Linked DNA regions of Homo sapiens. The protein of the gene in region 2 interacts with the protein of the main gene of each other region in a pairwise test. Each region holds a gene or a part of one and is shown on either strand. Other genes may lie near its edges. The genes, in order: PRPF18, CSRNP1, PPP1CB and ZNF587.

Evidence for each region.
Region 1: the proteins of CSRNP1 (region 2) and PRPF18 interact in binary tests that used the Homo sapiens proteins (3 or more experiments, as listed by UniProt).
Region 3: the proteins of CSRNP1 (region 2) and PPP1CB interact in binary tests that used the Homo sapiens proteins (3 or more experiments, as listed by UniProt).
Region 4: the proteins of CSRNP1 (region 2) and ZNF587 interact in binary tests that used the Homo sapiens proteins (3 or more experiments, as listed by UniProt).

What each region holds. Positions count from the first base shown.
Region 1 is NC_000010.11:13,582,438-13,590,439, reverse strand, and holds the start of PRPF18 (pre-mRNA-splicing factor 18), read right to left. Parts: upstream 3,476-8,002; 5' UTR 3,354-3,475; coding exon 3,288-3,353; exon of another isoform or gene 3,257-3,287; intron 1-3,256.
Region 2 is NC_000003.12:39,143,437-39,151,238, forward strand, and holds part of CSRNP1 (cysteine/serine-rich nuclear protein 1), read right to left. Parts: exon of another isoform or gene 4,506-7,802; coding exon of another isoform or gene 4,393-4,505; intron 3,995-4,392; exon of another isoform or gene 3,710-3,994; coding exon of another isoform or gene 3,690-3,709; intron 3,287-3,689; coding exon of another isoform or gene 3,247-3,286; coding exon 3,042-3,246; intron 1,821-3,041; coding exon 1,561-1,820; intron 1,548-1,560; exon of another isoform or gene 1,483-1,547; intron 1,016-1,482; coding exon 701-1,015; intron 609-700; coding exon 1-608. UniProt on the Homo sapiens protein: Binds to the consensus sequence 5'-AGAGTG-3' and has transcriptional activator activity. May have a tumor-suppressor function. May play a role in apoptosis.
Region 3 is NC_000002.12:28,782,830-28,790,631, reverse strand, and holds part of PPP1CB (serine/threonine-protein phosphatase PP1-beta catalytic subunit), read right to left. Parts: intron 6,726-7,802; coding exon 6,654-6,725; intron 1,975-6,653; coding exon 1,823-1,974; intron 1-1,822. UniProt on the Homo sapiens protein: Protein phosphatase that associates with over 200 regulatory proteins to form highly specific holoenzymes which dephosphorylate hundreds of biological targets.
Region 4 is NC_000019.10:57,852,394-57,860,195, reverse strand, and holds part of ZNF587 (zinc finger protein 587), read right to left. Parts: intron 4,093-7,802; coding exon 3,963-4,092; intron 3,180-3,962; exon of another isoform or gene 1,621-3,179; coding exon 56-1,620; 3' UTR 1-55. UniProt on the Homo sapiens protein: May be involved in transcriptional regulation.

The DNA.
Region 1 (8,002 bases), on a different chromosome or scaffold from region 2:
ATTTTCAGTAGAGATGGGGTTTCACCGTGTTAGCCAGGATGGTCTCAATCTCGTGATCTGCCCACCCCAGGCTCCCAAAGTGCTGGGATTACAGGCGTGAGCCACCGCGCCCGGCCGAATGTCAGTATTTTAATTCCCATTTCATGTACGCCCTTTGTTGGTCTGAACTGCTCTGTGATTGAAAAAATCAATCTTATCTTCTGGCTGGAATTATGTGATAATTCAATCAACTACCAAATTAAAAAATGAAAGACACCCAGGAAAAGTTTATATATTATAAATTATAAATGACCCTGAAGAATCTAAAGTTTTTTTTTTAATGATCATTTTTGTAGATTGGTGCATTTCAATGACGAAGAACATGATTATGCAAATATTCATGTTGTGAACCTTGAGGGTGGGCTGAATATTTTGTGATTCACTTTTCCCTTTAAAGCACTTAGATTTCAACACCCTGGCCCTTCCTAACATCCACTATGCACTCCAACACCTAAATTTAAAATACTCCCAACCACTCATCAAAAGGTCCCTGCAGTAGACATAAAAACATTTACAAATATGAACAAGCTTTTCCCCATACCTACCAAACAGCATTCTATTACCTCCACTTTTCTAATTGTTTTTAAAGTTTCAATGATCATGAAATTTGCCATTTACCAAGCTAAGAACTCTAACTTACTTACACTACATCACATACATCAATCGTACACAACATCCAAATATCTAAGTCAGATATTCTGTGATGCACGGATTTCCATGGGTCCTGTAGACCCTCTGAGAGGACTCATGAGGTCAAAAGTGTTTTCTACAGTAAGGCATTATCTGCCTGCTCACTCTGATGACATCTGCACTGTAGGTGAAAAGCAATGGTAAATTTGCTAAAGCCTTAGCAAGAACCAAGGCAGTGACTCTAAACTGCCACTGCAGCCAGAGGGAGCCAGTTTCTCTAAACAAATTTACTCCTTATGATAAAGGAGTAAAATTACTATTTTTATTAAGTCTTGATCTTTGGCCATATCTTTTTAATATTATGTGACAAAACAGGAAAGATGCATACAACAATTCTCATTTATACTAAAGTTTGCTGGTTGTGTGGAGGAAAGTAATTGAGTTGCAAGCTAAACTGGCTTTTTCACGGAATACCATTTTTACACTTAAGAACACCCGGCAAACCATGGTTCTTCAGACTTGGGTATTTGGCAGACAACTTCCCCAAACTGAACAAAGTGAGCAGATCACTTCAAGAAAATAACTGATAATATTTGTTGCCTATGATAAAATTCCAGCTTCCAAGTGGAAATTAAGTGTGGTGAACTTAGATCTGTCATCAGGAGCCTGACAGTTTCCTAATGCTTACAGATGTTTCTCAGATCAGTGGATATTAAATGAAGTGATCTTTTCATATTTTGTAATGAAATGTGTCAACAGGTGGGAGACCTGCATAATTCAGTAACCCAATGTTTTCCAAATGATCGATCAGTGAGTATTTTTAACGTTTCTCAGTTTTAACTTCTAATATGGTAAATACGGATAGAAATAACACATAAACAAAAGTCCTTCAAGATCTTCAGTAACTTTTAAGAGTGTGAAGGGGTCCTGAGACCAAAAGCTTTGAGAACCAGCGGTCTAAGTTACTGCTACACAATAAAGTAAGGGAGATCATCTTCAGGAAGTTCCTAAATCATGTAATTCTTTCTCCCCCTTTTTAGTACCTTTCCAAAAGAGTCTTAGCATTCCCATCAGTGAAGAGCAGGCCTACAGACTTTTCATGTGTTGAAGAAGAGAGAAGGAGGAGGAATAGAATTTAAAAAATTGGGATTTACTATTAGAAAGGAATTTTATTACTTTTTTTTTTTTTTTTTTAGAGACAGGGACTCGGTCTCTCACCCAGGCTGGAGTGCAGTGGCACGATGATAGCTCACTGCAGCCTGAACTCCTGGGCTCAAGCGATCCTCCCGCCTTGGTCTCCCAAGCAGCCGGGACTAGACGCGCGCACCACCACACCTGGCTAGAAGGAATTTTTTTTTTTTTTTGAGACGGTGTCTCACTCTGTCGCCCAGGCAGGAGTGCAGTGGTGCGATGTCGGCTCACGGCAACCTCCGCCTCCCGGGTTCAAGTGATTCTCTGGCCTCAGCCTCCTGAGTAGCTGGGATTACAGGCGCGCACCACCACGCCCAGCTAATTTTGGTGTTTTTAGTAGAGACGGGGTTTCACCATGTTTGCCAGGCTGGTCTCGAACTCCTGACCTCAGGTGATCTGCCCACCAAAGTGTGGGGATTACAGGTGTGAGCCACCGCGCCCGGCGGCCCTTCCTCCATGTTTCAGTTGGGCACAAACCCTTCGTAAGGCGACAGAAGGGAACTCTCAGGAGCACTGGGGCACGTCCGCAGAATGCCAACAGGTAGGAGCGGGGATAGGGGGCAGTTAGGTAAACTGGAGGGAAACAGGGTCAGTCGGGGGAAAACAAACAAAGCCTCGGGTTTTCCTGCAATTCCCACACCTGCATCCCTAAGGCTCCCAAGTGGTTACCGGAAAGAAGGCCGTGAGTGTAAGTTGCCCGGGTCCTTGGCGTTTTGAACAAAGAATTGGACAAAACGCACAAAAAAAGTAACAAAACACAGGAATGAAGCAGCAAAAGTAGGGACTTATGAACGCGAGAAAGCACTCCACAGGGTGTGAGTGGGCCCGAGCAAGCGGCTCGAGGCCCCGGTTACAAAGTTTTCCGGGTTTTAGGTACTCCTTCTGAGGTCCCTATCAGCTACCCCGTATCTGGATGAAGGGTTCGGTCTGTGGCTAAAGACTGAGGTGAACTGGCGCCCTATGCAGATGAAGGGATGGCCCGTGATTGGCCCACGGCCAATGCAGGGCACGTTCCCTTCCCATCTGAGAGGTGGTGGAAAGGCAGGGATGCGGGGAGAGCCGCAGCCTGAAGCCTTTGCTACTCGGTGGTGGGAAGATGAGGATTTTTCTTTTGGTTTGGCTTTTGGACGTGGGCGTTAATTGGCCTCAGGTTCCCGCCCCCAGACCCAGGTGTTTTCCTTTTGATCCAGCTTTGGGAAGTCAGCACGAATTGTACTCAAGTTCCCTGCTCTCAGACCCTATTCTCCAGCCTCAACAGTGAGACGCCAAGGGTTGGATCTAAGGGGGCCTACCAGGGGTAGTGGCAGGACACTCGCTAAGCCCCGTCCCCGCCCCGAATCCTCTGAGTATCGTCACCCTCACCCCAAAACCCCGACACACATACTCTCACTCTTACATCCCGACCCCCACGACCGCAGGGTCCTCACCACCAGCAGGTTCCTGTCCTCCACCAGCTGCCGCTTCCGAAGGATCTCTGATTTCAGAATGTCCATCTCGCCGCCAGAATTTAAGCTCCAGTTTCCCGCTCCAGCTCCTCGAACCCAGCCTCACTGGGCCGGCGGCCGCGAACCCACTGAGTATACGGAACAACAAGCCCAAACACCTGAGAACAACTGACAGGAGCCGCTTCCGGCGGAAGCTGGGATGAGAGAGATGAGGGAAGAGAGTGGCCCGGGGCGCCTGTGGTGGCCAAAGCAGCTGTGCGTGAGTGCCCACTGGCGGCGCCCTCCGGCAGCGCGCCTGTAGTTTCCCCTCGTAGGGAGGTTTACGTGAACGTGGACGGAAACCCGGGTCTTTGTAGTACTCTCTGCACCTGCTAGTTGAGTTCCAAAAGCCTCTCGAAGAACACCTCAATAATGCCAGTTAAATCAAGATCTTTATTAACTGGAAATTTACATTAGGGTTTCTGAAGTTACTTGCTTGCAAAATTTGCAAAAGGATGAGAAAAATCTAAACAATAATACTAACTTGTAACAATAGAGTGAAAGGGCTGTCTGTTCATTACTAGCCTGTTAAATTTCCTGTGAACTTAAACGACTACAACCATTTAAAGCAGTTTGGAAGTCAATTTATCTTCACTCCCTCTGTTTTAGATTGCTTACCAATCTTGGTGATAATTGAACATTTACCTCAAGCTAACTAATCATTTTTTGGTCATGTGTTCAGCAATCAAGATTTTTCAGTGACATGATTGGAGATGTAATCAGAAATTCCTTTTTTTTTTTTAAATCCAACCCAAGGGAAAAAAAGTTAAATTGAAGAGAAAAATTATGTCAGAGATTTTTTAAGTCCCTAACATTTGTTTACAGTGGACTTATTTTTTTCATGTCATTGAAGCACGTTTAAAAATTGTTTTTGTGAAATCATAATTGAACAATATTTGACATTTCGTTTTTCTTACTCAAAAAAGGTAAGAAATATCATTTTGTTGAGTCAGCTGATAATGGGTAAAATGCTTTACAAAACAAAAAAATGAACAATTGAATTATTTCAATTTAGAAAGTCTTTTGTGGGGGGTGATACTTCATCTAAAAGATATCTGAGGCCAGACGGGGTGGCTCACCCCTGTAATCCCAGAACTTTGGGAGGCCGAGGTGGACAGATCACCTGAGGTCAGGAGTTCAAGACCAGCCTGGCCAGCATGGTGAAATCCCGTCTCTACTAAAAATACAAAAATTAGCCAGGCGTGGTGGCAGGTGCCTATAGTCCTAGCTACTCAGGAGGCTGAGACAGGAGAATTGCTTGAATCCGGGAGATGGAGGTTGCAGTGAGCCGGGATCATGCCACTGCAGTCCAGCCTGGGTGATAGAGCAAGACTTTGTCTCAAAAACAAAACAAAATAAAATAAAATATACCTGACTTTTGCCAGAAATAAGCCAACACAGGAAAATGTCCTTGAACTAAATATGGCAACACTCTTGCATGAATATGGGTTTCCCTCACTAATCAATGAGCAAATAATAATTTATTAGCATTTTCCTGATTTAGGGATTAGGGATTGTTAGACACAAAAAAAACCTGAAGGGTTAAGACAGATGACAGTAACAGCAATGGAAGTTTACAGAGAACACAACGGCTGGCTACCTGGGAAACTGTCAGTGTAAACCAGAGAAGTTACTAGCTACAGTTAACAGCCTCCCCTTACATTTTAGACTTTCATTGATTTCTACGTTTATGTAAACATGTGCACTGAATCCTGATTAAGGCCTGAGATCAAAGAGTGATAGAGAGAAATACTTGAACAAGCAACTGACAAGCAAGCTTTTCCATTCAAAAGGAAGGAAAAAAGATATCCAGGAGCTTTTAGAAATACTTAAAAGAGGCCGGGCACAGTGGCTCACGCCTACAATCCGAGCACTTTGGGAGGCCAAGGCAGGCGGATCAGCTGAGGTCAGGAGTTTGAGACCAGCCTGGCCAACATGGTGAAACCCTGTCTCTACTACAAAAATAGCCGGGCTTGGTGGCACACACCTGTAGTCCCAGCTATTCAGGAGGCTGAGGCAGGAGAATCGCTTTAACCCGGGAGGCGGAGGTTGCAGTGAGCCAAGATCGCGCCACTGCACTCCAGCCTGGGTGACAGGGCAAGACTCTGTCTCAAAAAAAAAAAAAAAAAAAAAAAAGAAAAGAAAAGAAACACTTAAAAGAACAAATCGCCGTGACCCTAAGAGAGACCATATTCATTTAAAAAAACATGCATCCCATTTCATCACAATCATTATTTAAAAAGTGAAATATTGGGACTGGGTACAGAGGCTCACACTTGTAATCCCAGCACTTTGGGAAGCCAAGGCAGGAAGATCACTTGAACCCAGGAGTTCAAGGCTGCAGTGAGCATTGATCGCACCACTGCACTCCAGCCTGAGTGGCAGAGTAAGACACTGTCTCTAAAACAAAAATAAATAAATGAGAGATAAAAATGAAAAATTGGAAACAACCCAAGTGTTCTAAATGGAGGAATAGTTAAATAAAATATAGTTTATACACACAACCAAATAACATGGCATCATTAAAAACCATGTTTTTAAAAATTCAATGGTATGGGAATGCTCATGATACAATGTTCGGTCCAAAAGTAGCATAATGAAACTTTATAGCATATAGTCTCTGCTTTTTAACAAAAACATAGACATATGCTTCTTAACAAAAACATATAGACGTAATAAAACATTGATTGGAAGGAAACATACCAAAATATCAAGTTTTTATCTGGACAGTAGAACAATTGGGGATTCTTATTTTCTGCTTTTTACCACAATTTGGTACAAATCTCATAATATGGGGGGAAAATTCAGGTATCAGTCTTTTTCTGTTTAATTATTATTTAGACTATTTATAAATTTTCTAGCATGTCTATTTTAGACATTGTATATGATAAATTTTGAAGAGTATAAAAGAAAGCAAAGAATTAGATAAAGAATTTTTTAAATTTCCATAGTTATTCAATCTAATATTTAAATATCTTATATATGAGCTCTATACTACATTAGCTTCTGTGACCTAAACCAAAACATAGACCCTGCCCACAAAGAGATAGCCAGTTAGTTGGGGAATCAAGAAATAGACCTTAAAAAGTTAAATTTTGTAAGATTTAATAGTGTATATGTGGCTATAATTTCAGAAATTAAAAATCAGTCATCTTCTAAAAGAAAAAAGGGTAAAAATCAGTACAGGATTGATGAGATATTCCTCTGTAGAGGTAACTCATCCTAGGAAATTATTTGTCATTTCTGGAGACTGGAGGGAAATGCCAAATTGAATCAGGATCACCTGGATTTGTTTTGTGGCTGCCCTAAAAGATGGAATGTAACTTAAACAGCAAAGAAAAGCTCTATGATTCAATACAGTGGCTCTCAATCCTTAACATGCTTCAGGATAACCTGGAGGACTTTTTGAAACACAGACGGCTGGTCCCCAACCCCAGAAATTGTCTTTCCATAGGCTTGGGGTGGGACCCAAGATTTTGCTTTTTGAACAAACTCCCAAGGGAGATGGATGCTGTTGATCCAGGGACCTCATTTTGAGAACTGCCGACCTAATATATTATTTTGTCATCTCCTGCGGGGGAAAAAGTGCATTTGCAGTCTGAAATGCAGTCTGCACAAGTCTTCAGAATTGGAGCAGAGCGGGAAGGCTGGTCGGTGGTGTCTGCAGCACGGTCACAGGCACCTCAAAGGGCACCCGTCCACTCCCAGTAATGCTGCTTCTGGGAATTTCCTAATGGCAAGGGAGCAGGCTCCCTCCAGATCCAGCCACCTTTACAAAACTGCTTTGTAGGGTTAGACCACAGAGAATGACTTCTCCAATCTGGGACAATCAGAGTCCCTTCCCTAGAAAACTAAAACTGGAATGGAGTGGATCCTTCCAAGACTCAGGATATATAAAATGTGAATTCCAGAGTGATAGCCACTTCAGCCAGGCTGGTGCATACCGTCCCACAAGAGCCAATTGTTACATTTTTGAGAATTTTGTGTCAGTTGTCAAACTTAGCAATTATTAAAAATCAAATGAGTTTACTTGTAATCAAATAAATCATATTATAAACGAAGTTAATAAATACACAGAACCTAATTCTTATTTTACTACATTTTTACTCTTATGCTCTTGGAGTTATTTATGACTGTTGTATCTTTGTGGTGGAAATACTATAAAATGGTGGCTCCTGCAGACCTCTTACCAGTTCCAGGCTTGAGGACCCCACCTTGGCAACTGGAAATCAACCACAGTGACTGTATTAGTCAGGGTTCTCCAGAGAAACAGAGCCGCTAGGATATATAGGTATTTATCAGAAGAGATTTATTATGGGAATTGGCTCACGCAATTATGGAAGCTGTGAAGTCCCACAATCCTGCCTTCTGCAAGCTGAAGAACCTGGAAAGCCAGGGGCATAATTCAGTTGGAGTCTGGGGGCCTGAGAATAGGAAGGTGGGAGGTTGAGCTGGCTGGGCTAGCATAAGTCCCAGAGTCTGAAGGCCCAAGAACCAGGAATTCTGATGTCCAAGGGGAGTAAAAGGCGATGTCCAGCTCAAGAAGAGAGAGACAGGCCAGGCATGGTGGCTCATGCCTGTAATCCCAACATTTTGGGAGGCCGAGGCTCAGTTGAGGCCAGGTGTTCAAGACCAGCCTGGGCAACATAGCAAGACCC
Region 2 (7,802 bases):
CTGGCATCCAGGTTGGCATTCTCATCCAGGACGCCTGATGTGAAGCTACAGCCAGAATAGCTGTGGGTCCAGCTGGCCAGGCCACCAGGGTCACTAGTACCAAAGATGTCAGCTGGATGGAAGCAGCTGAGGTTGTCCAGGTTCCCCACGCTCCCTTCCTCCTCTTCCTCCTCCTCCCCACCGAAGTCAGAGTCACTGAAACTCAAGATGCGTGCCAGGCTGTCATCATCAACGCCAGGCTGGAAGCCAGGGCCAGGCAGGCCTGGGTGGGTGGGGCAGTCAGGAGCCTCACTAGTGCCCGATGCTGATGAAGATGCTGTAGAAGAATCAGTCATGTCGCTGCTGCAGCTGTTGTCTCCCAGCTCATTGTTCATGGGGGGCTTGGCCAGTGGGAAAGTAGGGACCAGGGCCTCCTCACCAGGGCTGGGTGGGCTGCCCTGGGCAGGGGCCTCCAGCTCCCTAAAGCTCTCAGCCTCCTGTTCCAACTGCAGGCGGGTGAGTGTGTGGATGAAATGGGTCTGAACTCTTGCCTGATTAAATTCCACACGGCCCATGGGGTTCTCACAGCCCTCCCTGCAGCAGCCACAGGGGAATGCTGTGTGGTCCATCTGCAGAGAAAAGTAGAGGTACAAGTGAGGGTTCTGTGGAGTGCAAAGAAGTCCCCACGCTCAGGATCCCCATCCCAGTCCAGCCACCACACCTGGCACTTGATGCCTGCCAGGCTGCAGCTGCAGGTCTCAGGGTCGCAGATCCTATCGCAGTGACAGCCACAATCCTCCCGGGATTGGCGCAGTGCCTGCAGCTCCCGCTTCTCCTCCCGATCGATCCTTCGCACACCTGAAGCCCTCAGCAGAGCTCGACGTCGCCGGGCTGGGTAGGGCTGTAGGAAGCTCACTTCTTCCAACCGGCCACCTGCCACAGCGACTGCCAAGTCCTCCTCCACAGAGGCGTCATCAATGGCATCCACCACAGGTGGCAGCCCTGCCTCTGCCTGGGGTACCCCAGCTGCCGAAAGCTGCATCCACAGGAAAGAGGGATGTAAGAAGCACAGACATGGACATGGGCTTAGCCCTACTGTCACTAGACAAACCCTCCCCAAGTGCTTACCCCCCCACTACTCGTGCTTAATCTGCGATGGGCACTGTGTGTCAGACAGTGAACAGGACAGCCAAGAAAACTGCCCTCAGGGCATTTGAAAAAAAAAAAAAGAGATATCCTACTCATGGCATTCCCTAGATCATGGACAGACTCCCTTTCCTAACCAGACAGATACGCACCCCCTCCAGTTCATATCAACTTCACATCCCCCTCTCCAAAAAGTTCAGATTCAGGTATCATGCCCCCAGCCCCTGCAGCAAATAGACACGAGCCCTCCTCTGCGCCTCCTGTTGCAGACAACCCAGGCAACAGGCTCCAATCAAGCCAATCACCAGGCCCACAGGCCTGTTTCCCCATAACCATAATGAGCAAGTCAGCACCCACCCCTGGTACGCCCACCCCTCAAGGTTAGGACTCCAGGAGCTGCCTCAGGAGGTGCGCCACGGAGAGGACTCTCTCTACCTTCCACTGCAGCATCTCCAACTTCTCCTCTTTCAAGCGCTGGCGGAGCTTCTCGTGCCGTGCACGGGCTTGCTCCTGCGCAAACTCAGCCAAAGAGAAGCGACGGCAAGCACTGTGGCGAAGGGCCATACCCAGAGTACAGCCACCACGGCTGGGCACACTGGTGAAGCCCTGGCAGCGGGGGAAGTAGAAGACGGTGATCCCATCAAAGGCTACACGGCCTGGGCGCTCCCGGCGAGCCCGCTTCAGGATAGACAGGGCTAGAAAGCAGGCAAAGATGGGCTGGGGATTAGTTTTCAGTGAGGCACAACTTACCTCCAAAAAGATCATGCCAGACTGCCCTCCCGCCTCCCACCTTTTCCCTCCTCCCTCTCCACCCATTTTGAAAAAAGAAATGTGAATTTAGGAGCCTGTGTGGTTGGGACTGGAGCGGCTGAAACTGAATACCACACCCATGTCAGAACTGGCTTATTGTTATTTACCAGTCCAAATGACAGTATTCGTAAGATTAAACATCTTTCCTATGTTTATTAGCCATGTACAGGTCCTTTGTACAGTTTTCTATTGTTTTTTATTGATTTGTAGGATTTCTGTGTTTTGCAACAGGCTTAAAAAGGCTTTCCCTTTACAAGTTAATGTTTATTGATTAGTAAGCTATGTACTGGTATTTTCATTAGGTTGAACCATAGCAAATTACCATGTAATGGTCAAATATTGGAAATTCCATATATTTCAACTTACTATATTAATTTTGTACCCAGCTACCAGAGGGAATTCCCTTCTAAAAGGTTTTCTGTTTATACTGTTAGATTCCATGTGCTAAAAATTATATTCTTTTTATGTGTAATGCACAGATATATACCTACAGTACATAAAAAGGTAAACAGCACATCTATTGTATTAAAATTTCATGGTGGGGGATAATTAAGGAGAAAATGTCTAAATAGGCTTCCTGGGGAACAATAATGAAAAATAAGGTCCAGAAACACTGCTCTAGGGCCATGTTCATCAGTCTGGAATCACAACTATACAAGCTTGAAAATAACCAGGAAAAACCCCTTTTCACTATGTTCAGGCAAAATGGACAGCATTTTGACAGGAGAGGGACCGGCTTGACAGGCCCCGTGGCAGAGAAGCATGGGGCGGGCGGGGAACTCCAGCAGTTCCATTTGTAGGACGGTAGGGTGCTCATTGGAGAAACGAAACTGGAACAGAAGGGAGGGGCCAGACCGGGAAGGCCCTGAGAGCACTCTGCAGAGCTGCATCCCGGATGTCATCACTCCCAAGGTCAAAGGTGAATTAGCTGGGCTCAGGTGCCCCTGGACAGTGGACACTGAGTGACCACTATATTATAGCTCATGAGAGCTACCGCCATGGGGACCTAACCACCAGAGGCCAAAGGCATTTGGTCAGGGACTTCTAAATTTCATCTTTCAGGAAGGCAGGCAGGTGATGGAGTTCCCAGGGGAGGGAGTACTCACGGGTGAAACTTCTGGGGCCGCAGAAGTCACGGTCAGGCAGGGGCATCTGATCCCAGGGGCCTTCCTCCTCTGAGTCCCAGGCACGGGAGACAGAAGAGCTTGGGGAGCAGGAGCGAGACTGGCACCCAGAGGAAGAGGAGGAGGAGGAGACCGAGGAGTTGTCCTCATCCAGCTGGTCAAATTTCCTCTTCAACAGCCCAGTCATGGTGGTGCCGGACGTGCTCTGGGGTCTGGGGACAGACAGCCTGGAATAGGAATGAGAAGGCTCTAAGTGGCAGGCAGGCAGCAGCAGGTGGACTTCCAGCCAGGATCATCATCCCTCCCACTTACCCTCCAAGGCATCCCAGACCCTGGCCTCTGCCCTCCAGCCCTGCCTGTGGAGCTCTGTGTGGGGGAGGGCACAGTCTCCAGGAGGATCTCTGCACAAGACACAGCACCTCCCTCCCTCCAAACTAATGTGCAAATCCACAGCCTGATGCTTCAAACTCCCACCTCTGCCCAAAGCCTTCCCAGGCACCAGGCACCTTCCCCACTACCTCCTACAACACACACTTACATACATACACAAAACACACACACACACACACACACATGCATCCACACCAGCAGGGGAAGGAGGCAGACAGACCAACAGATGGACTGACAGACCTCAGCCTGGTCTCACTCATTCCCCGACAGGAATCCTGGCGCTGACTCACAGGCTGGGTGATTCACACAGCTTGCATCTGTGTGCCTGTGTGTGTGTGTGTGTGTGTGTGTATGTGTGTGTGTGTACGCCCTACAGCCCGCACAGCCCGCACGGCCCTGGTATGGTGGCTCTGCTTCCTCCTCCTCCTCCTCCAGCACATCCAAACAGGCACGCCACTCTGCACACAGGCAGGGCTGCGGGCCCTTGCTCCAGGCTAGCCAGGCACTCTGGGGAACAGGCTGGCTTTGACGTTGGCCTCCATTCCTAGACGGAGTAGTTTCTGAGCCCTTCCCCTCCCGGTGTGGGAGCTTCTCAGACTTTCCCTTAGAAACCCCCGCTCCACTGTCAAGAAGTCTCCTGCCTCCAGGCCTGTGTGACCACAGCCACTAAGGCTGTCTCTTTAACATCTCATTTGATCCTAATGTCCAAAGTCTCTCCTGTCTGTGGCTTCGTGACATGGAGCACCCCACAACACAACACTGTCTCCCAAGTGAGAGTCTCAGCCCTCAGCAGAAGCATAACCAGAGACTCCCACAGCTGGCTGGCCTTATCCAAGCAGAAGAGACTTGGGGCTCATTCCCTGGAATGCTTCAGCAAATAAGGGTCCTTCCCAAGGTTTGGCAAGCCCCAGAGGACTCAATCCCAAAGGCTGAGTACAGCTACCTTGTGTCTGTTGCTCCAGCTGGGCCTTCGGGGAGGTCACCAGGGGGAAAGGGAAAGGAAGTTGAAGCTGAGGCCGAGGCCCCAGTGCTGGGGAACCCTTCCCCCACTGCCATCACAGGAAATGAGAGAGAACAGGAAAAACCAACCAGAAGGCTGTCTTGGTCTCCTCTACTCAGGTGTCCTTTCCAAACACTCCTTTGCCCTCTTCCCAGCCGCCTACAAAGTCCCCGAATCCTGTAGAGTTTGCTGTCAACCTTACTAACTGGATAATGTTTACCCCAGGGACAGCCTCCCCTAGGCAAGCGTGAGAGAAGCAAGAAAATCTCCCTCCCCAGCCAATCCCCCACCCTGGGCCTGGGGGAAGACTCACAGATGTTTCCGGGGGCTTCTCCGTGGGTAGTTTCTCAGGCTTGGCACCCCCCTCCCAGGGTCAAACCACAAACAAAAACAACCCAGCTCCCAGCTGACCAGCAGGTTCTCCCAGGAGGTGGGGGATTCATGACCCAGAGGCAGGCATACTCACATGTACACACATGCTCAGACAACACGGAAACACACATATGGACAAACAACACCCACACATCCTGTCCCCATCGCATCCTGCCAAGAGACCCCATCCTTTCCCCAGTTCCAGATGCCATCTACAGGGCCCTGAATGCCTCCTTCACCACACATCCAGCCTGAGATCCCCCAGGACCCACTGCCCACTTGTTATCTCCGCCCAACCATCCCCTAGAAACATAAAATTCTGCAGGCCCCAAATCGAACCCCTTGTGTCTGTTCCCCACCCCCCATGCCATCTGTTCCTCTTCCTGTGTTCCCTATCTTAGTAACAGCCCCACCACCCACCCAGTCACTCAAGCCAGAAACCTGCAGTCATCCTCAACTCCTTCCTCTCTCTTCCTCCATCTATATCCAGGCACGCCATGCCTGGGAGTTCATGTAAATCCGTTTAATCCACACAGAGCCAGGAACAGACCCAGGAGGTATCATGGAGGCCACGTGGCCGTGTTAAGAGCTTCGGCTCCAGGACCAGACTGCCTGCTTTTGCATGGAGGCCACGTGGCAGTGTTAAGAGCTTCGGCTCCAGAACCAGACTGCCTGCTTTTGAACTCTGGCTCCACTGTTACTTGGCTGGGTAATCCTGGGCAAGTTCCTTAACCTCTCTGTGCCTCCAATTCTTTGTCTTAAGACCTCATAGGGTTGGGGGGTTTAGAAGAATCAACACATGTCACATGTTCTTAGATTAGTGATAAGTGCTCAGTGAATGTGTTATTCCACACTGTTTAAAAAAAAAAAAAAAATGAGCTCCAGCTCCTGGATGCACACGACACAGATGCATCTCACAGACATCATGCTGAGTGAAAGAAGGCAGACACGAAATACATGCAAATGTTCAAAAAAAAAGGCAGAACTACTCTGTGATGATATAAGTCAGAGCAGTGGTTCCCCAGGAGAGGGAGAAGGACACCCTGGAGAGAGTCATGAGGGAAATTTTCTGGGGTGGGAGGTAGGAAGGGCTGGGGGACCTGTAAAAGTTCTATGTTGATCTGCATGGTGGTTAAATGAATGTCTAAAATTGTAAAAATTCGTCTTATGGACACTTAAGATTTATATACTTACGCATTTTATTTAGGTTACTATCAATTTAAAAAGTTCACTAACCTTAACATGTCTCTGTCCCCACAGTGGCCACCCCATGTCCCTCTACTCCTGCCCTCTTTCCCCAGCCATTCTTGATCCTGCAGCCAGAATGACCTTCTTAAACCACACATTTACCTGCCACTCCCACGCCTAGAACCACTCTATAGCTCCCCTTGGGGCATTAGGATCAAGTCCAGAATTCAAGAAGCTGAAGCTGACCTGGCCACTGCTTCCCTCTCCCCACCTTGCTCTCTTTACTCCAGCTGAACTGGCAGTTCCCGTAATGGCCATGTCCCTGCTCACCTCCTGGCCTCTGCAAAGCTGGAACAACCCAGCCTTATTCCCTTTCAGAAAGTCATCTTTCAAGGGGCTTCCTGAATCCCCCACTCCTTCCTCCTGCCTTTCTGTGCTCCTGCTATGGACTGAATATTTGTATCCTACCAAAATTCTTATGTTGAGACTGAATCCCCAGTGTGACGGTATTTGGAGGTGGGCCTTGGGGTAATCAGGAGATGAATGACACCTTATTAGCACCTTTATAAGAAGTGACACAAAAGAGATGGTCTCCCTCTCCAACATGTGAGCTCAGACCCAGCAAGAAGGTGTCCATCTGCAAGCCAAGAAGGCAGACTTCATCAGGCTGACTAGAGCCTTGATCTTGGACTTCACAACCTCCCAAAGTGTGAAAAATAAATCTTTTGTTTAAGCAACCCAGTCTATGGACTTTCCATTATAGCAGCCCAAAGGAAAACAGCTCCCAAAAACCCTGGTATTTCCCTATCACAGACTATATCTGATCAGACTGCAAGGGCCTCATTGCTCATCTGCCTCACACTGAGGGCATTTCTCTCTGGCTGCCCATGTGCCCATGTCTAGGACAGAGTCTGGCATAGAGAAGGCACCTGATAATACCAGAGGTAAGCAGACCAGCCCTGCATATCGGGTATAGACCCAACTGCACAGGCAATCTTACCCACATGAGGCTGCTGAGGGCGACTGGTCAGTGTGACCTTCTCCTGCTCCTGTCACAGTTAATTTAAGAGGGGCAGGAGGAGAGTCACATGTCTATCCCCCAGCTGTGCCAGAGGGTACAAGCAAGAATGGTGCTCAAAAAGGGTGGCTCTGGTGGCAGGAGAGGGAAGCTCAGGCTGCAGGCAGGTGCCAATGTAGGCAATCCCAGGAGGCTCCCTGGTCCCCCAAGAGGAAACAGATGGAGAGAGATGTCAGGAAAGCAGGCTCAGATACGCACTGCGGCTCTGCCTAAGGGATCGCCACAGAAAGAGAACTTAAGGTGAGGAGGTTATGACCTCCAAGCCTACAGACAGGGAAACAGAGACACAGGGAAGCTACGGTCATGCTGCAGGTTCTAGTGATGAACAATCCCCTCCAAATCTGCAGAGCGGGAATGAAATGAGAAATTACCTCCTCCCTGATACTCCTCTGGAGAGGCGGGGGAAGTGCCCCTGGTTCTCATGTTCCTCTGTTCCACCTCGGAATCCAGAGGCTAAGAGGCAGAGGCAGGAGATGAAACAAAAAGACTGAGCCAGAGACAAGGAGAGGCCAAGAGGGAATGAAACATAGTGAGAATCTAAGAAAAGTGTCAGACAGTGAGTCAGAGGTGGGGGGAGGGGCCCTCAGCAGCTACCCAGGAATCAAGATCCTGACCATGGCAGTGTTCCCAGGGTGAGCACAGCCCCCTCCCTAGGGTCCTGGAGGAAGGAAAAGCAGTTCCCAGGAGCTGGCTCAGACAGAAATACCACACCGCC
Region 3 (7,802 bases), on a different chromosome or scaffold from region 2:
GCAGTGGCTCACACCTGTAATCCCAGCACTTTGGGAGGCTGAGGTGGGCAGATCACCTGGGGTCAGGAGTTTGAGATCAGCCTGGCCAGTATAGTGAAACCCCGTCTCTACTAAAAATACAAAAATTAGCCAGGCGTGGTGGCAGGCGCCTGTAGTCCCAGCTACTCGGGAGGCTGAGGCAGGAGAATCACTTGAACCTGGGAGGCGGAAGTTGCAGTGAGCCGAGATCATGCCACTGCACTCCAGCCTAGGTGACAGAGTGAGACTCGGCCTCAAACAAAAACAAAAAATTAAAAGATTAAATAATTCATACCTATTACCAAGTCTACAATCAAATGTTCTCTTTTTTTGAGACTGAGTTTCACACCCATTGCACAGGCAGGAGTGAAATGGTACGATCTACACTCACTGCAACCTCTGCCTCCTGAGCTCAAGCGACTTTCCTGCCACAGCCTCCCAAGCAAGCTGGGACTACAGGTGCACACCACCACATCTGGCTGTTTTGTATCTTCTGTGGAGACAGAGTTTTGTCATGTTGCCCAGCCTGGTCTCCAGCTCCTGGGGCTCAAAGGATCTGCCTGCCTCAGCCTCCCAAAGTGCTGGAATTACAGACATGAGCCACTGCACTGAGCCACAATCAAATTCTTCAATGGTCTCAAAAATACTTTTTTAAAGTGTGGTTTGCTCTTATCAAAATCGCCATTATGCACAAAGATTATATAAAAATGAGGCTGGGCACAGTGGTTCACGCTCACGCCTGTCATCTCAGCACTTTGGGAGGCTGAGGCGCAGATCACTTGAGCTCAGGAGTTCAAGGGCAGCCTGGCCAACATGGTGAAACCCTGTCTCTACTAAAAATACAAAAATGAGCCAGGCGTGGTGGTGCGTGCCTGTAATCCCAGCTGCTCCGGAGGCTGAGGCAGAAGAATCGCTTGAGCCTGGGAGGCGGAGGTTACAGTGAGCAGAGATTGTGCCACTGCACTCCAGCCTGGGTGACAGAGTGAGACTCCATCTCAAAAAAAAAAAAAAAAAAAAAAATCTAAATCATATCTACAAAGCTTCAAAGAAGCACTGAAAATTTTGTTAGGTTTGCTGTATACTACAAAAATACATTCTTTTTTTTGAGACTGGGTCTAGCTCTTTCACAAGGGCTGGAGAGCAGTGACATAAACATGGCTCACTGCAGCCTTGATCTCCTAGGCTCAAGCGATCCTCCCACCTCAGCCTCCCACGTAGCTGGGACCACAGGCACGCACCACCACACCCAGCTAAATTTTTGATTTTTTTTGTAGAGATGGAATCTCATTTTGTTGCCCAGGCTGGTCTCAAACTCCTGTACTTAAGCAATCCACCCATCTCAGCTTGCCAAAGTGCTGGGATTATAGATGTGAGCCACCATGCCCAGCCCCAAAATATTTCTAAACATTTCCTCTTTTAGGGTGATAAAAGGTTAACAAATCACTAGATTGTTAAGTGTGAGATCCAGGAACTGGCTCTGCCACCTCTCCTACTGCTTTCCTTGTACAACTCATTTAGCTTTCTTGGATATGTTTCCTCAAAACAAAATGAGAGGGCTTATGTGAAGTTAACAAATAATAAATGTTTAAGAGTCCAGGTGTGGTGGCACACGGCTATCGTCCCAGCTACTTGGGAGGCTGAGGCACAAGAACTGCCTGAACCCGGGAGGCACAGGTTGCAGTGAGCAGAGATTGCGCCATTGCACTCCAGCCTGGGTGACAGAACAAGAATCTGTCTGCCCCTCCGTCTGCCCCCAAAAAAAAGAAAGAAAAAAGAAAAAGCTTAAGAGTTTTATATTTCATACCTGATGAGCTCGACAAATCAAATCTAAATCATGACGATTCAGAAATTTACTGACTACATCAGCTCCAAAAGTAAAGGAAACACCACGATCATTTTCTCCCCAGCCTTGCACATCCTTATCTGGATCAGACCATAGCAAATCACAGAGCAAACCTTTAAAGGACAGAAATACAGCAATTAAGAACAAAATTTACAGATTTATAGAATATAGCACATCTACATCAAATTTCAGTTCCTTTCTTGCCCTCTTACCTTTTACTAAACAATGACCATCACTTGCCTAAGTATTCCAGCCTATGTAACTTATACTTTTGTTAAAGCAACCATACAAACCATACAAATATAATCTTCCATGGCCTCTTAAGGTAGTACTTTCCAACCCTTTCCACATATAGGAAATATGTGCATGGCACTTACAGCACAACAATACATGGAAAAGGCTGTTCATCTTTTGGGTAGTTTCTCCATATGAATAACCAAACAACCCAGTGGTATTTCCTCAACAGTTCATCCTTTCCTTACGGTTCCACTGTTTCTGAGCACCACAGTCTATTCTGTTAGTCTATTTTACTTATCCCTGAGCCAATAACAGACTAGAGCTTTTTAATAAGTCTTTATATTTGGTAGGGCTAGTATCCTCCATTTTTTTTTCAGGATTGTCTTGGTTACTTTTTGATCTTTTGTTCTTCCACATAAACATTAAAAACAATTGCCTAATTCCATAAAAAACTCAATTGTGATTTCACTGGAATTGTATTTGATCTACAGATCACTTGAGCGAAAAAAAAACATTTTCTACTGAGACCCTGAGGATTTTTTTTTAAATGTGGAAGAACAAAATCAGATCAGATCCTTGACTTTGGTAATGTTTGGAGCCCTGGAAAAGAGGTCAGGGTTAAAAATATTTACTTGAGTATTGTCATCATATTAATGGTAGTGGAAATCTTAAGAGGGACTCAGACCACCTTAGGAATACAAAGTGAGAAGACCAGCAAATGAATTCTGAGGAATTCAAACATTTAATAGGCAGGTAGATGAGGGAGAATGAACATTAGGTATTGAGAAGGAATGATCAAGACAAAGGGCTTAGTATAGTAAACGTATCCCGAAAGGGGAAACAATCGTCCTAAAGTAGGAAATGTGCCATGAACAAGGGCAGTAGGACGAAGACCAAAAATGTGCCACTTACAATTAAATCATCAGACCTCAATGCAAGTTTCTTGGTGATTGAGGGTAACGGAGTGGGTAAAAGTCCAACTGTAGTGATATTAAAAGAAGGGTGGATGTTGAGATGGTGATGGTGATTTTCTAAGAATTGCAGTGGCTAAGAGAAGATACATATATATTTTTTTGAGACGGAGTCTCGCTCTGTTGCCCAGGCTGGGATGCAGTGGTGCAATCTCTGCTCACTGCAAACTCTGCCTCCCGGGTTCACGCCATTCTCCTGCCTCAGCCTCCCGAGTAGCTGGGACTACAGGTGCCCGCTACCACGCCCGGCTAATTTTTTGTATTTTTAGTAGAGATGGGGTTTCACTGTGTTAGCCAGGATGGTCTCGATCTCCTAACCTCGTGATCCGCCCGCTTCGGCCTCCCAGAGTGCTGGGATTACAAGTGTGAGCCACCGCGCCCAGCCAAGAAGATAATTTTTAAAGAGTTAAGTCAGTTTTAAGAATTTTAAATAATCCATAAACATCATAGTATGGTTTAGGAGGAAAGGGCATCTTCATTTTCAGTTACAGTACATCATATCTTGATAGAGGCATTATAAAACCATTTGTAGAATTAGTGGCAATGTATTCAATCTCTATCATTGATATATCCCAAGCTCCCTGTATGTTGTTTTAAGAAATTCACTAGCACACAAAATCCACTGGAATAGTCAGTCTCAATTCTTAAGCCCTTTCTGGTTGAAGCTGACTCTTCGAAAATATACACCCACCCAGTGCTTAATAATGCTTTCATACTTTCCAGCCTCTTTCCAGTAGAAAGCTAAGGTATTAAGAATCTATAATTTCTTTTTTTTTTTTTTTTTTTTTGAGACGGAGTCTCGCTCTGTTACCCAGGCTGGAGTGCAGTGGCACGATCTCGGCTCACTGCAAGCTCCACCTCCCGGGTTCATGCCATTCTCCTGCCTCAGCCTCCCGAGTAGCTGGGACTACAGGCGCCCACTGCCACACCCAGCGAATTTTTAGTAGAGATGGGGTTTCACCGTGTTAGCCAGGATGGTCTCGATCTCAAGAATCTATAATTTCAGTGAGACAATAAAACTGTATAAAATTAGAATAGAGTTTGAGGTTTAGGAAACATGACACTCTGGATGCATTAAAAAAATCAAATAATGGTAGCAACAACAATCTGGAATTCTTTAACCTTAACAGGGTCTAGATAAGAATTTCAGGCCAGGTATGGTGGCTCACGCCTGTAATCCCAGCACTTTGGGAGGCCGAGGTGGGCGGATCACCAGAGGTCAGGAGTTCAAGACCAGCCTGGCCAACATGGTGAAACCCTGTCTCTATTAAACATACAAAAATTAGCTGGGCACAGTGGCAGGAACCTGTTATTCTAGCTACTTGGGAGGCTGAAGCAAGAGAACTGCTTGAACCTGGGAGGTGGAGGTTGCAGTGAGCCGAGATCAGGCCATTGCACTCCAGCCTGGGCGACAAGAGTGAAATTCTGTCTCAAAAAGAATTTCAGAGTCAAGATTTATTGTTTAATGAGCTAGCATCACAATCAACTAGGCTGCTTCAAATAATGTATTAACTTATAAATTAAATTTCTGAATGTTGCAGACACTATCAAAGATCAAAATAACTGTTTTCAGCATCTTGAAAACTTCTCATTAAAATACGCTAAAATAAATAAAACATGCTAAAAACAGAAGCCTAGCATATCACACTAGATCAGTTTACATCTGAACTATAAACAGATATTCTGAAGAATGACCAGTAATACATATTTATATTATACCTTATTTTAAAAATAGCACTTTGGGTGTTTTTTGAAAGAGAGGGTCTCACTGTGTCACCCAGGCTAGAATGCAGGAGCACAATCACAGGTCACCGCAGCCTCAACTTCCCAGGCTGAAGTGATCCTCCTGCCTCAGCCTCCTGAGTAGCCGCGGTGCTGCGACATGTGGCTAATTAAAAAAAAAAATTTTTTTTTTCTCTGTAGAGATGGGTGTTATGTTGCCCAGGCTGGTCTCGACTCCTCACCTCAAGTGATCTTCCTGCCTTGGCCTCCCAAACTGTTGGAATTACAAGCATGAACTAGTGCACCAGGCCTAAAAACAGCATTTTAAATAAAATACTATTTAAATACCAGTTTGTTAGGTTTAGTCAAATGTATTCTATAATTACAATCAAAAACTGTGATAAAATGCATACTTTAAAAAATAATCAACACAACAAGTCGTGTTATGTAAAAAAGCTCATAACACAGGCCAGGTGTGGTGGCTCACGCCTGTAATCCCAGCACTTTGGGAGGCCAAGGTGGGTGGATCACAAGATCAAGAGATCGAGACCATCCTGGCCAACATGGTGAAACCCCATCTCTACTAAAAATACAAAAAATTGGCCGGGTGTGGTGGCGGGCGCCTGTAGTCCCAGCTACTCGGGAGGCTGAGGCAGAAGAATCACTTGAACCCGGGATGCAGAGCTTGCAGTGAGCCGAGGTTGCACCACTGCCCCCCAGCCTGGTGACAGGGCAAGACTCTGTCTCAAAAAAAAAAAAAAAAAAAAAAAAAAAAGCTCCTAACACAATTTATTACAACATACAGTGTATTACATGGCTACTGACATCAGAGGATCTATACCATTTATAATGGTTGATGTGTAGTTCTGAGCAGCATTTTTTGTGGTGATTGTTGTTTCTTTTTTCTTTTTTTTTTTTTTTTTGAGACAGTTTCACTCTGTCACCCAGGCTGGAGTGCAGTGGTGTGATCTCGGCTCACTGCAACCTCTGTCTCCCAGGTTCAAGCAATTCTCGTGCCTCAGCCTCTTGAGTAGCTAGGATTACAGGAACGCACCACCATGCCCAGCTAATTTTTGTTATTTTTAGTAGAGATGGGGTTTCATCACGTTGGCCAGGCTGGTCTGGAACTCCCGACCTCAAGTGATCCTGCCCACCTCAGCCTCCCAAAGCGCTGGGACTACAGGCGTGAGTGCCACTGCTCCCAGCCTTCCCAGAGATTTCCAATGTAATTTTCACAAAACTGACCACAGGTCTCTAGAGCCTTAAGAGCTCTAAAAATTTAAGCCAGGTATGGCACATGCCTGGAGTCCCCTAGCTACTCAGAAGAGGCAGGAGGATTGCTTGAGCCTAGGAATTCAAGGCCAGCCTGGGCAACAGATTGAAATCCCTCCCACACCCCCTTGAAAAAAAGCTCTAAAAATTTCAAATAGAGGACATAGAAAATAACAAAAAACTACTAGACATTTGAAAAGAAGGTAGTTGTATCCTTGCCTAAGAAGCAAAGAATAGATTATTTTAATTAAAAAACTTTTGTCTAATTTAACAAATTTTTGAAGAACATAACCAATGCTAGTATGAATGAGGGAATTTAGAAAAATAGGTATAAGGACTCAACAGCAAAATCTTTTTTGTGATCAAATAACTACATTATGACTATAAATAAAAAGGTTCCGCATTTTGAGGATCAGTGCAAAGTGAAAAATTGTGTATTACTGCAAATAAAGTAATCTGTAGCTGGCTTATTGACTATGAAAAAAGCTCTTTTATTTATTACATAAGCCAATCCTACTTCCACTAAATGTAATCAAGTTCAAATATGAAAACACTTTACACAAAACAATTAAACTTCTCTCTACACTTACCTGTATCAGGGACATCAGTAGGTCTCATAATTCTCCGAATCTGCTCCATAGATTGCAGGTCTGGTGACAATCCTATAAATAAAAAGATGAGACATAGTACTAACAGCTAAAAATTTTAATATTTTAACAGTCACCGAATAAAAAGCATTTAATCAAAATAGATTCACTATGTGAAATTAAAGATACTGAAAAGTGTTCCTTTTAACGTCTTTTTTTTTTTTCGAGACAGAATCTTACTCTGTCACCCAGGCTGCAGTGCAGTAGCGTGATCTCAGCTCACTGCAACCTCCACCTCCCGGGTTCGAGCGATTCTCCTGCCTCAGTCTCCCGAGTAGCTGGGACTACAGACGCGCGCCACCACATCCAGCTAATTTTTTGTATTTTTAGTAGAGACGGGGTTTCACCATGTTGGCCAGGCTGGTCTCGATCTCTTGACCTCATGATCCAACCACCTTGGCCTCCCAAAGTGCTGAGATTACAGGCGTGGGCCACCGCGCCCTGCCCCTTTTAATGTCTTAAAGGGCAACACAGAGTTATTAGGAATTCCACTTTGATATAATACAGCATTATAATTGTTTTTTTCCATTTTTCCCTACCAGGGAAATGAAATTCCTTTATATTTCAAAAGACTTCCCAAGGAAAAAAAAAACTACCATTCTTTTTTCCAATCATTCCCTGGCCTTCATAGAAACATAATCAACTGCAACCCTTCCTACCACTTTTGCCAGTTCTTACCACTAATCTTAAACATTTTAACTTCTAAGTGAAAGTGCCTCACTTGGTTCCCTAAGACCTTCTTTTCACATCCCACTCCAACATGTTCATTATCTTCATGAAGTCATAAACTATTGATCAGAAGGATTAACAGGAAAAGCTCATAAAAATACTCTGCAATCTTTGAAGTGGTATATAAGCTATTATTTCTCTCTGATAGGCAATCCAAGTATCATCACAAGGAATGAAGCTAAACATTCGTATCCATACTGCTACACTTCTATCCTTAGCTACACTAATGTACAAGAACTACAATTCATTACGTGTTTAATGTCTACTGGAAAACATATTTCAATTAATATAGTGAATTATGTTCTGCCAGAGAATAAACCATTTATTACCTCGGGCCTAGGCAAGTGCATCTATCTTTTCAGC
Region 4 (7,802 bases), on a different chromosome or scaffold from region 2:
CCTGTGTTTAACGAGACGGGATGCTTCAGCAAACGATTTCCCATATTCACTGCACTCATAAGGCCTTTCTCCTGTGTGAACTCTGATGATGAAGGAGGGTAGAGCTTCGCTGAAATGTTTTTCCACATTTGGTGCATTCATAAGGCCTTTCTCCAGTGTGAATTCTCCTGTGTTTAATGAGACTGGAACATTCAGAAAAGGATTTTCCACATTCACTGCACTTATAAGGCTTTTGTCCAGAATGAACTCTTTTATGAACATGAAGCGCAGAGCTGGAAAGAAATGATTTCCCACATTCACTGCATTCATACGGCCTTTCTCCAGTGTGAATCCTCTGATGTATAGTCACGCTGTGCTTATTGCCAAATAATTTCCCACATACCTCACACGCATATGGCCTTTCTCCAGTGTGAACTCTCTCATGAACCAGAAGATGATACTTCCTGTTAAATAATTTCCCACATTCCCTACAATTGTAAGGTCTTTCCCCAGTGTGAAGTCTCTGGTGTTCAGTGAGGTGGGATCTGTACCTAAATGATTTCCCACATTCCTTGCACTCATAGGGCCTTTCTCCAGTATGACCTCGCTGATGGTGAACGAGGTTGCCCTTTTGACCAAAAGATTTCCCACATTCTCCACACTTGTAAGGCCTTTCTCCAGTGTGAACACGCTGATGGTTAATAAAGCAGAACTTCTGACGAAAAGATTTCCCACATTCCCCACAGTGATAAGCTCTCTCTCCAGTGTGACCTTGCTGATGTTGAATGAGGTTACCCTTTTGACCAAAAGATTTCCCACATTCTCTACACTCATAAGGCCCTTCTCCAGTGTGAACAAGCTGATGGCTAATAAGGCTGCCCTTCTGACTAAAAGATTTCCCGCACTCCTCACAGGGATAAGCTGTCTGTCCAGTGTGGACTCGCTGATGTTGAATAAGGCTGCTCTTTCGACTATAAGATTTCCCACACTCTCCACAATCATAAGGTCCTTTTGCAGTGTGATCTCGCTGATGATTACTGAAGCTGACATATCTGCTAAAGGATTTTCCACAATCACTGCACACATAACATCCATCTCTAGTGAAAAGTTTCTGGTGTGGAATAACTGAGTGTTTGGTGCTGAAGGCTTTTGTGCGTTTTCCACAACTGTAATTAGTTTTTCCCTCCTGAAAGGGTGGGCCATGCATAGTTTCACTGTCTGTCTTCTCTACAGCAGCTTCTTCTTGGCACAATCCTGAACTGGGCAGAACGTCCTTCCCAAACTCGCGGAAGACAAATGGCTCCTGTGACACCCTGAGCTTACGTTTCTTTACAAACGATGCTTCTCTGACACTCTTTCTGTAGAATTTCTCTCCAATATGCTGCTTCTGGTGCTGATGAAGGTATGCAGTGTCATCCAAGTTTTTTCCACATGCTCCACTCCTGTTCAGCTTCTGCTTGTGATGAGTTTCCTGGTGGTCAGCAAAGTGAAAAACATCCTCCAAGATGAGGCCACACATTTCACAGGGGTGAGCCTTCTTAGGAGAAACACCTGCCCTAGGAGTCCTGCTCTGAGACTCTCTTTGTACAGAAATTCTCTGCTTACAAGGTGCCTCCTCATCTTTTGATCCACACCAACAACCTGAAAGCAAGAAAATGCTGGTCAAGTGCAAAGTACCTCCGGCGGGAAGGCACAGCCCACCCACAAGTACGTCTCACAAATTGAGGAATTAATCTATAGAAATATTTGCAGGAACACAATGTTGGCTTCAAGTTGAAGATGGGGCTGCTGGCTGGGCATGGTGGCTCACACCTGTAATCCCAGCACTTTGGGAGGCTGAGGCGGGTGGATCACCTGAGGTCAGAAGTTCAAGACCAGCATGAACAACATGGTGAAACCCCATCTCTACTAAAAATACAAAAATTAGCTGGATGTGGTTGTGGACACCTGTAATCCCAGCTACTCGGGAGGCTAAAGCAGGAGAATCATTTGAACCCAGAAGGCAGAGGTTTGTAGTGAGCAGTGATTACGCCACTGCACCCCAGCCTGGACAACAGAGTGAGACTCAATCACAAAAAAAAAAAAAAAAAAAAAGATGGGGCTTCTTAGAATTCCTGGGCTATAAAGGTCACAGAATCCAGGAGGCTTCATGATGTAAAGAGCACAAGCATATATGCAACACAGGGAGTAGAGGCAGGGTCTACAGCTCCTTCCTCTACAAACAAGTTGTGTACAGGACCTTATCTCCTGATGACATGTGAGTGCTATATAGAAGAATATGGGCCGGGCACGGTGGCTCACTCCTGTAATCCCAGCACTTTGCAAGGCCGAGGCGGGCAGATCACCTGACGTCAGGAGTTCGAGACCAGCCTGGCTAATATAGTGAAACCCTGTATCTACTAAAAATACAAAAAGTCAGTCAGGCATGGTGGCATGTGCCTGTAATCCCAGCTACTTGGGAGGCTGAGGCAGGAGAATCGCTTGAACCCAGGAGGCAGAGGTTACACTGAGCCGAGATCATACCATTGCACTCCAGCTTGGGCAACAAGAGCAAAACTCTCTCTCAAAAATATACATATACACACACACATATATATATATACACATACACACATATATATACATCTATATATATATAGAAACATGTGAAGACCAAGAAAACATGAGTACAACACAGCAGGGGTGGTCATAGATGGTTTAACCATGGGCATACACTTCCTAATACGTAATCAATACACCAATATCAGAGACAACTGCAGATGAAAGCAAAAGAAAAATGGGTGAGATGTGGAGTCCAGAAATGTGAGTATTAGTGCTGGGGTGGATATCACTGCAGAAATGAAAAGGTACAGAACTAACACATGTGAAACTCTCAACAATGGGGAGAAAAAGACAAATAGTGTGTGCCTACTCATATTGCCCCAAAAATACTTGGCAAATGTAAATGGTTTCTGGTATGATTTGGATAAACCCCTGAAGTCATGCCCTCCCCCAGCATGGCACTCCTGAGGGACAGGCTCCCTTTGAGCCTATCGTGATGAGCCTGAATTGAACCACATCTTGTCAAACATGGAGGACTCTCCATCTCACACCCAGTACATAGGACCCGACGATGTAACTATGAAAGGAGAGATAGCAGAGATGAACAGCCAACACTAGCTCAGGACAACTAAGCACCTGACAGCCCACAGGAGAGTAAGGTAAGTATTACAAAAGAATTCCTAAGCAGGGTCTTGCAAGAAGAGTCTATGGTCTATGGTCTATGTAGGTAGTGACAATGTCAATGAAGGCAATTCTTGGCACAGGGAGGCACAAAGCATTGTCAGATAGAGGAAGGAAGTGTTAATAGAACCTGGGCACACAAGAGCTACCGATTTGGACAGTCACCTGACAGCCAGAGGCAGGCAAAGTGGATACATTAAGGTGCCTATAAGACTCCTGACTCTGACTCCTTCCCTGGGAGCCTGGAGCAAAGCAGGTGTTGGAGCTGCTTAAGGAGAGGAAAAGGTGGCTGGGCGTGGTGGCTCACGCCTATAATCCCAGCACTTTGGGAGGCCAAGGCAGGTGGATCACGAGGTCAGGAGATCAAGACCATCCTGGCTAACACGGTGAAACCTCGTCTCTACTAAAAAACAAAAAAAATTAGCCAGGCGTGGTGGTAGTCGCCTGTAGTCCCAGCTACTTGAGAGGCTGAGGCAGGAGAACGGCATGAACCCGGGAGGTGGAGCTTGCAGTGAGCCGAGATGGCGCCGCTGTACTCCAGCCTGGGTGACAGAGCGAGACACTGTCTCAGAAAAAAAAAAAAAACAGGAGAGGAAAAGGCAATACACACACCTTACTCCTACGAACCACACAACTTACACAGAGAAGTGCAGAAGGAACCTGTGTCCAGGCTCCTTAGGTGAGAAAGACAGTCCTGTCAATGAAAAACAGGGGAACAGTAACACTAGCTCAGGTCACAAAGGTGAGCGTGAGCAACTTACCCAGCGAGGATATGAGAGCCAGGTTCTCTAGCATCACATCACGGTACAAGCACCTCTGAGCCTCACTAAGAAGACACCACTCCTCCTGGGAAAAGTTCACAGCCACATCTTCAAAGGTCACAGTGCCCTGCTATGATAGTGACAGATGAAACCACAAGCAGCCCCTCTGCTGAGGTACCACAACCCACCTCTCCCACACACCCACCCTTGCCCATCCTCCTCCCAAGGTCCCCAACACGGAGTTGAAACCACATCCACTGGTGCCTTTGTCTCTTCATGGGCCTGCTGGTCAAATGCCATCAGCAACAAGAAGTAGGTGGACAAATAGGTATCCATGCTGAGGTCCTGACATAAAAAGGTCCACTCCCTTCTGGGCTGGGTGCGGTGGCTCACGCCTGTAATCCCAGCACTTTGGGACACTGATTCGGGCAGATCTTGCAGTCAGGGGATAGAGACTATGCTGGTTAACATGGTGAAACCCTGTCTCTACTAAAAATACAAAAAATTAGCCGGGCATGGTGGTGGGCACCTGTAGTCCCAGCTACTCGGGAGGCTGAGGCCGGAGAATGGCGTGAACCCAGGAGGCGGGGTTTGTAGTGAGCCGAGATCACACCACTGCACTCCACCCTGGCCAACAGAGCGAGACACCATCTCAAAAAAAAAAAAAACAAAAAAAGCCCACACCCCCTTCTGAACAGCGATATCCAAGGTCACGTAAAGCCCAAGGCAGCTGCCTGAGTCCATCAGACAACCTCGCTCTCATTAAATATATATCATTCTTTATACTGTACAGACACATGCCCATGGCCACCCCCACCAGAGTTTCCCCAACCTTCAGCCCCTCTCTGGCATCCCCAGAAGTAAAAGTTTATTTTTGGGGGATTTTTTTGAGACATAGTCTAGCTCTGCCACCCAGGCTGGAGTGCAGGAACACAATCATGGCTCACTGCAGCCTCCGCCTCCCAGGTTCAAGTGATTCTTGTGCCTCAGCCTCCCAAGTAGCTGGGATTACAGCCATGTACCACTACACTCGGCTAATTTTTTTTTTTTGAGACGGAGTCTTGCTGTGTCCCCCAGGCTGGAGGGCAGTAGCATGATCTCAGCTCAGTGCAAGCTCTGCCTCCCAGGTTCAGGCCATTCTCCTGCCTCAGCCTCCCGAGTAGCTGGGACTACAGGTGCCCACCACCACAGCTGGCTAATTTTTTGTATTTTTTTTTTTTTAGTAGAGACGGGGTTTCACTGTGTTAGCCAGGATGGTCTCGATCTCCATACTTCCTGATCCACCCACCTCAGCATCCCAAAGTGCTGGGATTCCAGGCTTGAGCCACCATGCCTGGCCTGTATTTTTTTTTTTTAGTAGAGACGGGGTTTCACCATGTTGGCCAGGCTGGTCTTGAATTTCTGGTCTCAAGTGATCCACCAGCCTTGGCCTCTGAAAGTGAGGAGATTATAGGGGTGAGCCACCACACCCAGCGCCTACAAATAAAATTATTTCACAAGATGAAGAGGGTATAACGGCCCATGATTCCCTTGGGAATATGCAATGGTTTGTTTCCATAACTCTGCTGGTAGGGATGGAATTGAAACCCACCACAAAATATAACAACCTGGAACCCTGCCTTATCACCTTGATAAAACGGGCTGTTAGGCTAGGATACATTATTCAAGAGAGCAGAGTGGGAATGAGATTTGTACTCACACCTTTTAAGGTTGTCCCACTTTCACAAGATGTCAAAGTGACACATCATATTGGGCCTTCAATTCTGGCCTTATACCAAAATGTGGATAAGCATCCAGACTATGCTTGACAAATACAAATAGCATCCAATATTAACACAGAATTTCCATGGTTTACAATAGCAGTGGTAATCCCAAATCATCCTGTGAACGTCTCCTGGAATGACTCCATAGCCACACAGAACCACATATGGCTTCAGATAGCCATGGCCCTATTTCACTTTTGTGCTGCACCAGCTGAGACCTCAGCTGTAGCAACCCTCCTCTGTCCACCTAATGCCGTTTAAAGCCCAGCCCCTGGATTTGTGAACCAAACCACATCTACTATCACAGATGAGCATATTTTTCACTGCCCATATGCACCAGGCTGAATGAAACTCCCCAGGCACTCCCAAAGTCATCTCAAAATGTTTATGAGTCCAGACAGTGATAAATAGTTACAACTGGCCAGGCACAGTGGCTCACGCCTGCAATTCCAGCACTTTGAGGCCGAGGCAGGCAGATCACCCGGTCAGGAGTTCAAGACTAGCCTGGTCAGCATGGTGAAACCCTGTCTCTACCGAAAATACAAAAATTAGCCTGCTGTGGTGGCAGGTGCCTGTAATACTAGCTACTTGGGAGGCTGAGGCAGGAGAATTGCTTGAACCCAGGAGGTGGAGGTTGCAGTGAGCCGAGATGGCACCATTGCACTCCAGCTTGGGCAACAAGAGCGAAACTCCATCTGAAAAAAAAAAAAAAACAAAAAAGTTACAACTTTGGCACCAACTCAGGCCTAAGTGTCATCTTCCCTGAATTACTCCTGTGCTTCTGCATGCATCTATCTCTTCTCTATTATCTCTTTGGATGTCTATGTCCCCTTCCAAACTCTACTGTATTAAATGTCCTGTTATGATGGTCACTCACACCCTCTCAGGTGTTTAGGAAGCCCAATAACATCAATTGAGGACGTAAGTAAGAGATCCAGTCCTCAGCCTGTAATCACACCTTTCTGCCCCCTGAAAAGATTTACCACCATAATCTGAAGCATGTCCTCCTAAATGGACCCATAACTAATCATAGTTCACTCATTAGCTTTCATATATTGGATGTCTCCAGTATCAACACCCTCCCAGATACCCCATCCAGTATGTCTAGTTATCGATTTGATGCCACCACTTATTGGTCTCTGATTCTTCATATGGCCAAAACAACCCTCTGGATATCCACAGTGAATATTATGTCAATACCAACGTCATCTCAGCTGAAGCAGTGTGCATGGTTACAGCTGCTAAGATCAAAAACCTTGGGCTCATGCCCGATTCCTCTTTCATGCTCCTATCATCCACATTAGAAAATCTAGCTGTCTGCAAGGCATGGTGGCTCGTGCCTATAATCCCAGCACTTGGGGAGGCAGAGGCCAGCGAATCTCCTGAGGTCAGGAGTTTGAGACTAGCCTGGCCAACATGGTGAAACCCCGACTTTACTAAAAATAGAAAAATTAGCCGAGTGTGGTGGTACATGCCTGTAATCCCAGCTACTCAGGAGGCTGAGGCAGGAGAATCACTTGAGCCCAGGAGGTGAAGGTTGCAGTGGGCTGAGATTGTGCCACTAGACTCCAGGCTGGACAAGAGAGTGAAACTCCGTCTCAAAAAAAAAAAAAAAAAAAAAAAAAAAAAAGCCTAGCTGTCTCGGCTGGGCGCATTGGTCCATGCCTATAATCCCAGCACTTTGGGAGGCCGAGATGTGACGATCACTTGAGGTCAGGAGTTCGAGACCAGCCTGGCCAACATGGTAAAACCTCGTCTCTACTAAAAATACAAAAATTAGCTGGGCATGATGGTGGGTGCCTGTAATGCCAGCTACCTTGAATGCTGAGGCAGGAGAATTGCTTGAACCTGGGAGGCAGAGGCTCCAGTGAGCCCAAGATTGCGCCATTGCACTCCAGCCTGGGCAACAAGACTGAAATTCCACGTTAAGAAAAAAAAAAGAAAACCTAGCTGTCTCTTTACAAAAAGTGAATCCTGAATCCAGACCCATGTGATTTACCACTTATCTGATCCATTAACCCTCACCTGGATTATGGCAGGAGCCTTATCTCTGACCTTTCTTCCTCTTCCCTCAACC